3 linked regions of the Homo sapiens genome follow. The protein of the gene in region 3 interacts with the protein of the main gene of each other region in a pairwise test. Each region holds a gene or a part of one and is shown on either strand. Other genes may lie near its edges. The genes, in order: ATRIP, TEX11 and FAM156A.

Evidence for each region.
Region 1: the proteins of FAM156A (region 3) and ATRIP interact in binary tests that used the Homo sapiens proteins (3 or more experiments, as listed by UniProt).
Region 2: the proteins of FAM156A (region 3) and TEX11 interact in binary tests that used the Homo sapiens proteins (3 or more experiments, as listed by UniProt).

The regions. Positions count from the first base shown.
Region 1 is NC_000003.12:48,456,643-48,460,294, reverse strand, and holds part of ATRIP (ATR-interacting protein), read right to left. Parts: intron 3,037-3,652; coding exon 2,879-3,036; intron 937-2,878; coding exon 841-936; intron 509-840; coding exon 379-508; intron 186-378; coding exon 1-185. UniProt on the Homo sapiens protein: Required for checkpoint signaling after DNA damage. Required for ATR expression, possibly by stabilizing the protein.
Region 2 is NC_000023.11:70,548,624-70,552,275, reverse strand, and holds part of TEX11 (testis-expressed protein 11), read left to right. Parts: intron 1-29; coding exon 30-150; intron 151-3,652. UniProt on the Homo sapiens protein: Regulator of crossing-over during meiosis. Involved in initiation and/or maintenance of chromosome synapsis and formation of crossovers.
Region 3 is NC_000023.11:52,951,933-52,955,584, forward strand, and holds part of FAM156A (protein FAM156A/FAM156B), read right to left. Parts: intron 3,315-3,652; 5' UTR 3,222-3,314; intron 1-3,221.

The sequences.
Region 1 (3,652 bases), on a different chromosome or scaffold from region 3:
GAAGCTGGCAGAGTGGGAAGGCCCTTCTGCCTCCCTCTGCTGGGTCTCCATCACGTGAGCACTCATTCCGGGCAACCAGATTCAGTCCAGTGAATGCCAGGTTCTGTGCTTCTCTCAGGGCTGAGAGGGAAAATGACCCATCATAAGAACCTGTGGTCCTGAGGCCTGACATTCCAGCCAAGGTACTGGCAACAAACACAAAGAAAAATAGATTAAGTGTGGGATGGAGATAAGGTCAAGAGCCCCAAACAGCCTGCCTGCCAAATTCTCCAGGCTGCCTGCCCTTCCCACAGACTTCTCAGGCTGGCCAGGGCCAGAAAGGAATTTGCTTCCAGGAAGCTCCTTCCCAAACAAGCTTTCCAGGAGTCTTATGCTTACCTGCCAAACCCTGGTGGCTGCAGGGGGGTGCCAGCAGGAGACTCAGAACTACTACTCAGGAGGTGGCAAAGGCTTAGGGATGACCCTGGGATCAAAGGCTGCTTCAGGAGCAGGTTTATCAAAATGGAACCTGCAGAAGACAAGATGACTCTAGAAGGTTCTGACATGGGAGATCTTTTCGGTGGCTTTCAGAAGGAAACAGTAAGGATTCTTTGGATGCCAACTGTCCTCTAGGCTGCCACTAAGCCCCAGGAAGATGCCTGTGGGTGCGGAAGGCTCTGGGACATACCTGCCCTTGGCCCTTTCCACTTTATAAAGTCTTCTGCTTAAGCCACATACTTTGACTTCCCTGGACTCTCTGAAGGACTGCCCGGGGCACCGGTTCTCAGAGGCCTGGGCAATTCTTCTGCATATTACTCAGAGCCATGCAGGCCCCTGCAGGAGAAGCAGGGATTCTGGTACCTTGAGTGTTTGATCTCTGTCTCCAGCTGTCAACAAAGCTTTTCTGGGCCTCTTCTTGTTTTATGGAGTCACCTCTCAGACTGTGGGGCTTACTATCTGAAATGTGATAAAATGTAAATCAAAACTTGAGCCCAGAAGCATGGGCATATTAGAAACTTTTACATGCAATGAGTTTAAAACACACGCTGTTCTACTTCTTCGAACTTGGAACAAACAAGAGCCAAAGCGGCTCAAGAGCCCTGCATCTTTTACCTTCCTTATGTAAAACAGGAACTCATACAAGGAAAGGAAAAGAAAATCAAGCTGTTTGCCTCACTCAAAATGAGGCAATTAGATAAAACAGTGACCACTAACATTGACATGGTGCTTGTTACGTGCTAGACAGTGTTTTAAGAGCTCTATACGCATCAGCCCATTTGTTCCTCAGTGACCCTACAAGGATTTATCATTAGGTCTGTTTTACATATAGGGAAACTGAGGCACAGAGACTAAAGGACTTGCCCAAATCATATAAGCCAGTTAACAGCATTACTGGGACTCACATCCAGGCTACTGGGCTCTACTGCCTGCTTGTAACACTACTGTACACTGCCCCTTTAGCTGCTAGATGCCAAAAATGTAAGTGGGCTACAGTTTCTCAGAAGTGTTATGATGGCCAAGGATTTGAAAGGTTGATGGTAAGAAGAGGGTCAATGTATCCGATTTATAAGATACACTGACATAGCAGTCTGAAAACCTACTGATGTTAGATTGTCTCTCTCTAAAAAACAGCAGATCCCCTCAATCTGGACTGAGTTATAAAAACTCAAAAGCTGGACTACAAAAGGAAAACAGAGGCTGGGCACGGTGGCTCATGCCTGTAATCCCAGCATTTTGGGAGGCTGAAGTGGGTGGATCACGAGGTCATGAGATTGAGACCATCCAGGCCAACATGGTGAAACCTGTCTCTACTAAAAATACAAAAATTAGCTGGGTGTGGTGGCGCATGCCTGTAGTCCCAGCTACTCGGGAGGCTGAGGCAGGAGAATCGCTTGAACATGGGAGGCAGAGGTTACAGTGAGCCGAGATCACGCCACTGCACTCCAGCCTGGTGACAGAGTGAGACTCCGCCTCAAAGAAAAAAAAAAAAAACAAGAAAAGAAAAACAGATTCCTGCATACTAGCTAGGTTTTTGGCATGGTCAATTGATGCTGTGATGGTTTAAAAATATGCCCACAAGCATGATGGCAGGTGCCTGTAATCCCAGCTATTCGGGAGTCTGAGGCAGGAGAATCACTTGAACCCGGGAGGCGGAAGTTGCAGTGAGCTGAGATCGTGCCATTGCACTCCAGCCTGGGTGACAGGGTGAGACTCCGCCTCAAAAAAAAAAAAAAAAAGGCCCACAAATGCTTTGACACAACTCCCCTTCAAAAGGTATAAGCTTGGGAGGAGGGGGGAGGGATAGCATTAGGAGATATACCTAATGCTAAATGACGAGTTAATGGGTGCAACACACCAACATGGCACATGTATACATACGTAACACACCTGCACGTTGTGCACATGTACCCTAAAATTTAAAGTATAATAATAAAATAAAAATAAAAAATAAAAATTAAAAAAAAGGTATAAGCTTGGTTTCTCCCCTTGAATGACGCCCAGACTCAGTGATTTGCTTCTAACAAATACAATGTGGCAGAGGGGATGCTGTGTGACTTCTGAGGCTAGGCCATAAATGGATAGCTTCTGCCTGGCTCGCTCTCTCTGGATTTGCTAGCTTTAGAGGAAGCCACCCACCAGGTTAAGAGGATACCCCATATCCATGTGCAGAGGCCCATGTGGCAAGAAATTACACTGCCAGCCATGTGAGTGAGCCACCTTGAAATAGATCCTCCAGCTTAAGACAAGCTTTCAGTGATTCCAGTCCCTGCAGAGATTGTCCCCTCTGTGCCTTGTCAGAATTGCTGATCACAGAAATTGGGAGAAAATAAATAATAATTGTTTTAAGCCACATATTTGGGTAGCTTGTTATACATCAATAGATGACTAATGGACTTACCCTCTCTGCCCACCAGAGGCTTGTATCCTGACTCCGTCTGGCAGGGGTGGGGAAGGGACATGTTAGCACTAAAAGACTCCTTTGTAGGAAAAGATGTTTTTCCAAATTGTGGAGAACATGCTTCTGGCTTTATAACCACAGAAGGGTTTTTCCTAGGACTGGAAAAAGTTAACTATGAAAGCAAAGTAATGATTCTACTAAAACCATTCAAAATATCTGGTTACAAAATTTCTAACAAACTTTAAACTTTTCATGTCTAGGTGTTTTAACCAAAGGTTTTATCTATTATATGTCTACCATTCTTTGTCAGAGGAGCAGTGCAAAATTCCAGGCATTTGTTTTTCTTTTTAAAAATATTTTAAAATTTTAATTTCTCTATAGAGATGGGGATTCACTAAGTTACCCAGGCTGGTCTGGAACTGCTGAGCTCAAGTGATCCACCCACTCTGGCCTCCCAAAATGCTGGGATTACAGGCATGATCCACTGTTACTGGCTAATTCCAGGGATTTTGATCCAAATTATTGAAAATTCTTTTACTCATTTTTATATTTTTCTAATCATCCAAAAATATAATATTAGCCATAATTCCTTTACTATTCTTTATTATCACTATTTACAATTCCACCAAAACATTTTTTTTTGAGACAGAGTCTTGTTCCATTGCCCAGGCTGGAGTACAGTAGCATGATCATAGCTCACTGCAGCCTTGACCTCCTGGGCTCAAGCAATCCACCCATCTGTAATCCCAGCCTCCTGAGTAGCTGGGATTACAG
Region 2 (3,652 bases), about 18 Mb from region 3:
GGGATGAGTTTTCTCTTTTTGATTTTCAGCAAATGTATGCACAACTTGGTTAACCTCTCAGTGCCAGATGGGGCGTCGAATGTAGAGCTCTGTCCCCTGGAAGAAGTTTGGGGCTATTTTGAAGATGCTCTGAGCCACATTAGCCGCACTGTAAGTCAAATAGTGATATTAAACTTTCAGTTAATTTTAAAGAACTGAACTGTCTTGTGTACTATAAATTATATACAATAATGCTTTCTGATATGAGTTTTAGGATAAATTCATATTACAATTTTGTAGTTACACACTACAGAATTTTCCTGGGTTTCTGAAATATAAATAGTTGAAAGTAGACATTTTCTAACACAAGTGTATTATGGATTAGGTCCAAGTAGCAGTACCACCAGGCATTTTGAATTATTTTATATTTTCAAATCATGGTGGGATGATTACTTTCTCTGTGATGATATGAACCTTTTGAAAAAAGTTATTGCTATTCCCATCCTTTCTCAGAAGCATCCTTTCTCAGAAGAGTAGAAGGAACATTGAAGACCTGTATTCTAGTCCCTCCTCTGCTGATTTCTTTTTCTTTTCTGTGCAGGTTTATTCAGTTGTTTTAAAATTAGGTTTCTTGAGGTATAATTCACATATCATAAAATTCACCCATGGCTTGTGCACAATTCAGTAAATTTATAGAGTTGTGCAACTATCACTACAATCCAGTGTTTTTTAGTTTTAAAAATGTTTTATTTTTAATTTTTGTGGGTACATAGCGGTGTACATGTACCCATACTTATGGGGTACATGAGATTTTTTGGTACAGGCATATAATGCATAATAATCATATCAGGATAAATGGGGTATCCATCACCTCAAGCATTTATCCTTTGTGTTACAAGCAATTCAATTATACTTTTAGTTTTTTAAAATGTACAATTAAATTATTGTTGATTATAATCACCCTGTTGTGCTATTAAGTACAGATCTTATTCATTCTATTTTTTGTACCTATTAACCATTTCCACATTTCCCCCACCCCTCCTCTGGTAACCATCACTCTACTCTTTCTCTCCCCAGCAGTTCAATTATTTTAATTTTTAGCTTTCACAAATAAGTGAGAACATGTGAAGTTTGTTTTTTGTGTGTGTGCTGGGCTTATTTCACTCAACATACTGACCTCCAGTTCCATCCATGTTGTTGCAAGTGACTGGATCTTATTTTTTTTATGGCTGAATAGTACTCCATTGTGTATAGGTACCACATTTTCTTTATCCATTCATCTGTTGATGGACACTTAGGTTGCTTGCAAATCTTAGCTATTGTAAACAGTGCTGCAACAAACATAGGAGTGCAGATACCTCTTTGATATACTGATTTCCTTTCTTTTGGGTATATATCCAGTAGTGGGATTGCTGGATCATACGGTAACTCAATTTTTCGTATTTTGAGGAACCTCCGAACTGTTCTCCATAGTGGTTGTACTAATTTACTTTCCCACCAACAGTGTGCAAGGGTTCCCTTTTCTCCACATCCTCACCAGCACTTCCTATTATTGCCTGTCATTTGGATATAAGCCATTTTAACTGGGGTGAGATGATATCTCACTGTAGTTTTGATTTGCAGTTCTCTGATGATCAGTGATAGTAAGTACCTTTTCATATGCCTGTTTGCCATTTGTTTGTCTTCTTTTGAGAAATGTCTATTCAGATATTTTCCTTATTTTAAAACTCGATTATTAGATTTTTTTTCCTATAGAGTTGTTTGAGCTCTGTATATATTCTGGTTATTAATCCCTTATCAGAGGGGTAGTATGTAAATATTTTCTCTCATTCTGCAGGTTGTCTCTTCACTTTGTTGATTGTTTCCTTTGCTGTGCAGAAGCTTTTTAGCTTGATGTGATCCCATTTGTCCATTTTTGATTTGGTTGCCCATACTTGTAGGATATTGCTCAAGGAATCTTTGCCTACTCCAATATCCTGGAGAGCTTTCCCAATATTTTCTTGTAGTAGTTTCATAGTTTGAGGTGTTCGATTTAAGTCTTTAATCCATTTTGATTTGATCTTTGTATAAGGCAAGACATAGGGATCTCAACTTTCCTCCTTCTGCATATGGATATCCAGTTTTCCCAGCACCATTTATTGAAGAGACTCTTCTTTCCCCAAAGTATGTTCTTGGCACCTTTGTCAAAAATGAGTTCACTGTAGATGTATGGATTTATTTCTGGGTTTGCTATTCTGTTCCACTATGTTGAGCTGCCTGGGGCTGGAGGAGGGGTGATACAAGCACCCTTGTGGCCACTGCCACTGGGACTGTGCTGGTCAGACCTGAAGCCAGCACAGCACTGGGTCTCACCCAAGGCCCACTGTAACCACTACCTGGCTACCACCTATGTTTGCTCAATGCCTTAGGGCTCTACAGTCAGCAGGTGATGAAGCCAGCCAGGCTGTCCTTCCCTTCAGGGCAGCAACTTCCCCCTGGCCCCAGAGATGACATGCAGGAGCCAGGGCCTGGAGTCAGAAACCCTAGAAATCTACCTAGTGCTCTATTCTACTGCAGCTTAGCTGGTATCCAAACCACAAGACAAAGTCCTTCCCACTCTTTCCTCTTTCCACACGCAGAAGAGTCTCTCCCCGTGGCCACCACCATCAGGTGGTGTGGGGAGTTCTGCTGGGCTACTGCCAGTGTTCACTTAAGGCCCAAGGGCTCTGCAATCAGCTTGTGGTGAATGCTGCCAGGCCTGGGACTCATACTTCAGAGAAGTGGGCTCCTCTCTGGCCCAGGACAGGTACAGAAATGCCATCCAAGAGCCAAGGCCTGGAACCGGGGACCCTAGGAGCCCACTTGGTGCTCTAACCCACTGTGGCTGAGTTGATATCTAAGCTGCAATACAAAATCCTCTTTACTCTTCCCTCTGCTTTTCTCAAGCAGAAGGAGTCTCTCCTCATAGCCACCACAGCTGGGAATGTACTGGGTCACAACTGAAGCCAGCATGTCTCAGAGTCTCACCTAAGGCCCACAGTATGTACTACCTGGCTACTGCTGCTGATCACTGAGGGCCAAAGTGCTATTTAGTCAGCAGGTGATGAATCCTGCCGAGACTGGGTCCTTCCCTTCAAGGCAGTGGGTACCTTTTAGCCCGAGGTGTGTCTCAAAATGTTATCTGGGAACTAGGTCCTGGAATGGGACCTTCATGACTATGCCAAGTGCCCTGTCCTACTGTGGCTGAGCTGGTATCCAAGATGCAAGACAAAGTCCCCCTTAAGCTTCCCTCTCCTCTCCTCTAGTGGAAGGAAGGGGTCTGTTTTGGAGCTGCAAACTGCACTGCCTGGGGTTGAGGGAGGGGTCGTGCAATCACTCCCTTGGCTGCCCTGGCTGGTGTCTCACTAGGTCGCATGTCCCCCAGATGCACTGGCTCCAAGCCCAGCACAGCACAAAGATTTGCCCAGGAGTTGCAGTCCTTGTGGCCTAGACTGCCTCTCAAATTTATTTAGAACCCCAGAGCACTTTAGCTCTCAGTGGCAAGGCTTGTTGGAACTCAAGTTCCAACTACTGGGATGGACAATTGCTCTCTAGCTAGGGCTGGTCTAAATACTCCCTCCATGAGCATCAGTTGAGTTCTGCCCAGTGTTACTTTCTGCTGTGACAGGGCAGCACTGAGTTCCAAGCAAGATCC
Region 3 (3,652 bases):
CTCACACTTTGCAGCTGGGAGGGCGAAATAGCACAGCAACTTTGAGAAGCAGTTTGGCAGTTTCTTGTAAGTCAAACAGATGTTTACCATAGGACCCAGCCATCCCACTCCTGGGTATCTACCCTAGAGAAATGAAAACTTAGGTTCACAAAAAAGCCCGCACTGAATTGTAAAAGCAGCTCGATGCGAAACTGCCCCACACTGGACAGAGGAAAATGTCATTCAGTAGAAGGATGGCTGAACACCTGTGGTCTTCCACACCGTGAAACTGCCTTCATGAAAAAACAACAGCCTGTGACAGAGGCATCTGACACTCATCCGAGATGTTCATCGGGCCAAAAGAAGGAAGCCCGCCTCACAAGGCCACAAACTGTATGGTGTCATTGACATAACACTCTCCCCAAGACAAAACTAGAGGGAAGGAAACAGATCACTTTACACCAGGGATGATGGATGAAGAAGGGGTAACCGCAATGGGGCAGTTCCAGGGAGTGTCCTGCGGTGATGGGACTGTTCTGGATCCCGACTGTGGTGGTGGTGACAAGAATGTATGCCCGTGTCAAAGCTCACAGAACTGTACTCCTGAGGGAAAAAAGTCAATCTTGCTGTAGGTTAAGTGGAAAAACCCAACGGCATATTTTGCGATAAGGGTATCTCTCTGTACTGTTTTGATAAATACATCTTGGATGAGTGCAACCAAAAATTGACATTAAATGCTAAATGGAAACTTTAGATCAGCCTCCCAGGCTCTATTCTTTTGACAAACGTGGAAACCAAGAATTCACTAGTTTTCTTCAGAGGATACTGGTCCTCTGAATGTTTATTCACCAAATCGTGGCTATCAGCCCACACTGGGGCAAGAAAGACAGAACCGTAACAGGAACAGTTTGAATATGTACTGAACACAAACATATATAAACACACACACACACACATCCCAGAAAGAGTTCTTAACTTTTCAGAAATTGCAATCTATCTTTCCTACGAGTTAGTTCCCTGACATCCTTTGGGCCACCACTATCTGACACAAACAGTTAATGTGTGAAACGTTTGGAAAATGATCTTAACCCAATTATCTCCCAGCCAATTCTCATGTGTCACAAGGACTCTCTCAGGATCTATTTCTACATGTAGAAAGCCAATTCTCAGAGAGAGAAAAGACCTTACGACCCCCACCCCCCACGTTTCTTTTGCTGTTTTGTTTGTTTGTTTGAGGCAGGGACTCGCTCTGTTACCTAGTCTGGTGTGCAGTGGCAAAACCTCGGCTCATTGAAACCTCTGCTTCCTGGGCTCAAGGGATCCTCCAGTCTCAGACGCCTGAGCAGCTTGCACTACAGGCGTGAGCCACCATGCCCGGCTAATTTTTGTATTTTTTGTAGAGACGGGGTTTTGCCATGTTGCCTAGGCTGGTCTGGAACTCCTGAGCTCCACATGATCTGCATGCCTCAGCCTCCCAGAGTGCTGGGATTATAGGCGTGAGCCACTGTTCCCAGCCAGAAACACTTTTATGAGAAGAAATGTGAGCCGGGTGTGGTGGCTCATGCCTGCAATCCCAGCACTTTGGAAGGCCGAGGCAGGCAGATCACCTGAGGTCAGGGGTTTGAGACCAGCCTGGCCAACATGGCGAAACGCCATCTCTACGGAAAATACAAAAAAATTAGCTGGGTGTGGTGGTGGGCACCTGTAATCCCAGGTAATAGAGAGGTTGAGGCAGGAGAATCACTTGAACCCAGGAGGCGGAGGTTGCAGTAAGCCGAGATTGCACCACTGCACTCCAGTCTGGGCAACGGAGCAAGACTCTGTCTCAAAAAAAAAAAAAAAAAAAAAAAAAAAAAGAAAAAGAAAAAAAAGAAATAGGAAGATTCTGGAGACATCAACTGACAACCGGCCTGCATAGTCATCGCTCTCTTTTCTCTCTTTCTCCCTCCAGCAATTTTGTGAAATGAAACATTTTACCGTCCTATGTGTAGGTTCATCCAGAGATTCTCAAACCACACCCATGGAGTTGCTCATGATCCCTGACAGAGGCATTAAGGACAGTGAGGCCTAGAGAAGTCCGTTGTGTGTGCGGAGGGGAGCAGCTGCAGCAATACATGTGACTTCCCTTCCTTCATCATCTCACCAATGTCATTTCTTCAACAGGCACTTGCCCCCAGGTAAAAGACCTTGTATCAAAAATCTCTGCATGAAACACCACAGCCTCAAGTTTCCTGCATCATGTCATGCAGCTACCGAAGAGAGAGAAGGACTACTGGAGACAGGGAACCCAGACAGTTTACCGGTCAGACCTTCAGCATGAGAGGTGATGTCTCTGGGTACCAATCCCTCACTGTGATGGTTTTATCGGTCAACTCGGCCAGGCTTGGTGCCTGGTCCCTTTTGGTCAAATGCTACTCTAGTTGTTGCTGGGAAGGTATTTGTGGACATGATTAACATTTACAATCACGCTGGGCACAGTGGCTCACGCCTGTAATCCCTGCTTCGGGAGGCTGAGGCGGGTGGATCACTTGAGGTCAGCAGTTCGAGAGCAGCCTGGCCACCGGGGTGAAACCCCATCTCTACTAAAAATAAAAATTAGCCGGGTATAGTGATGGGTGCCTGTAGTTTGGGACTGCCATGGCCCTTGGCAAGACTTTCACCTCTCATTCACCCTGCATGACTCAGCTGAGATAGCACTTCTCCCAGGAAGCCTTCTCCAAGCTCCTAAAACGCCCTGTATTTCCCCTGTCCCAGCCCCAATCCCACTCAGCTGTCAACAGATGGTTATTTCTCTGTCAACCCACTAGCCCAGGAGCTGACAGAGGCCAGGGACTTTGTCTTGTTCACCCATCACAGAGCCTTGAGCCCAGTGGACATTCACAAATATCTATCAAATGAAACAAGAAGGATGTGGGGCCCGTGATAAACATCTCACTGAGAATGTCAAGTCAACCCTGCAGAATCCATATTTTCCCACGTTGCAAAGGCAGAAATTCCTGCATGGAGAGGTCAAGTAACTTCCCTCAGATCACACAACCACTCAGGGACAGAATTCCCTCCCAGGTCTCCCTGACTGCAGATGAACACACCCCTGGTGGCATTGCCTCTCTGGGTGTTCAGCCTCCCCTGATACCTAAGCGAGAAAGTAATCCTGAGGGAAGAGTTCAGACAGCAGAGTCCTAGGGGCTGACCCGCATGTCCACAGCTGCCCGGGGATCGGGTGCAATGCTGCGAATCCTTACCGTCACTTCCTCCTGGCCAGTTCTGTTCCCATGCCAGAAATGCTGCACCAAACGCACCTCTCACACTCCCCACTCTCATTCGCTTCAATTCTCCTGTGCGGAAGGAGAAAGAGAACAGCTAAGCAAGTGAATCCAGACGACACCCTGCAGATGAGCGCCAGGAAGAGCTTTGTGTTTCTTTTCAAAATTAAGCCAGTCCCATGTGATGCTTTTTTCAATCTTCCACAATAATATGAGATAATAAAATGCATTTATTTCAGTTTAAAGATACAGATTTCATTTAATAATCCCAATTAAATATGGACTTTTTTTTTTTTTTTTGAGACAGTCTCACTGTGTCGCCCAGGCTGGAGTGCAGTGGCATGATCTCAGCTCACTGCAACCTCCGTCTCCTGGTTTAAAGCAATTCTCCTGCCTCAGCCTCCGGAGTA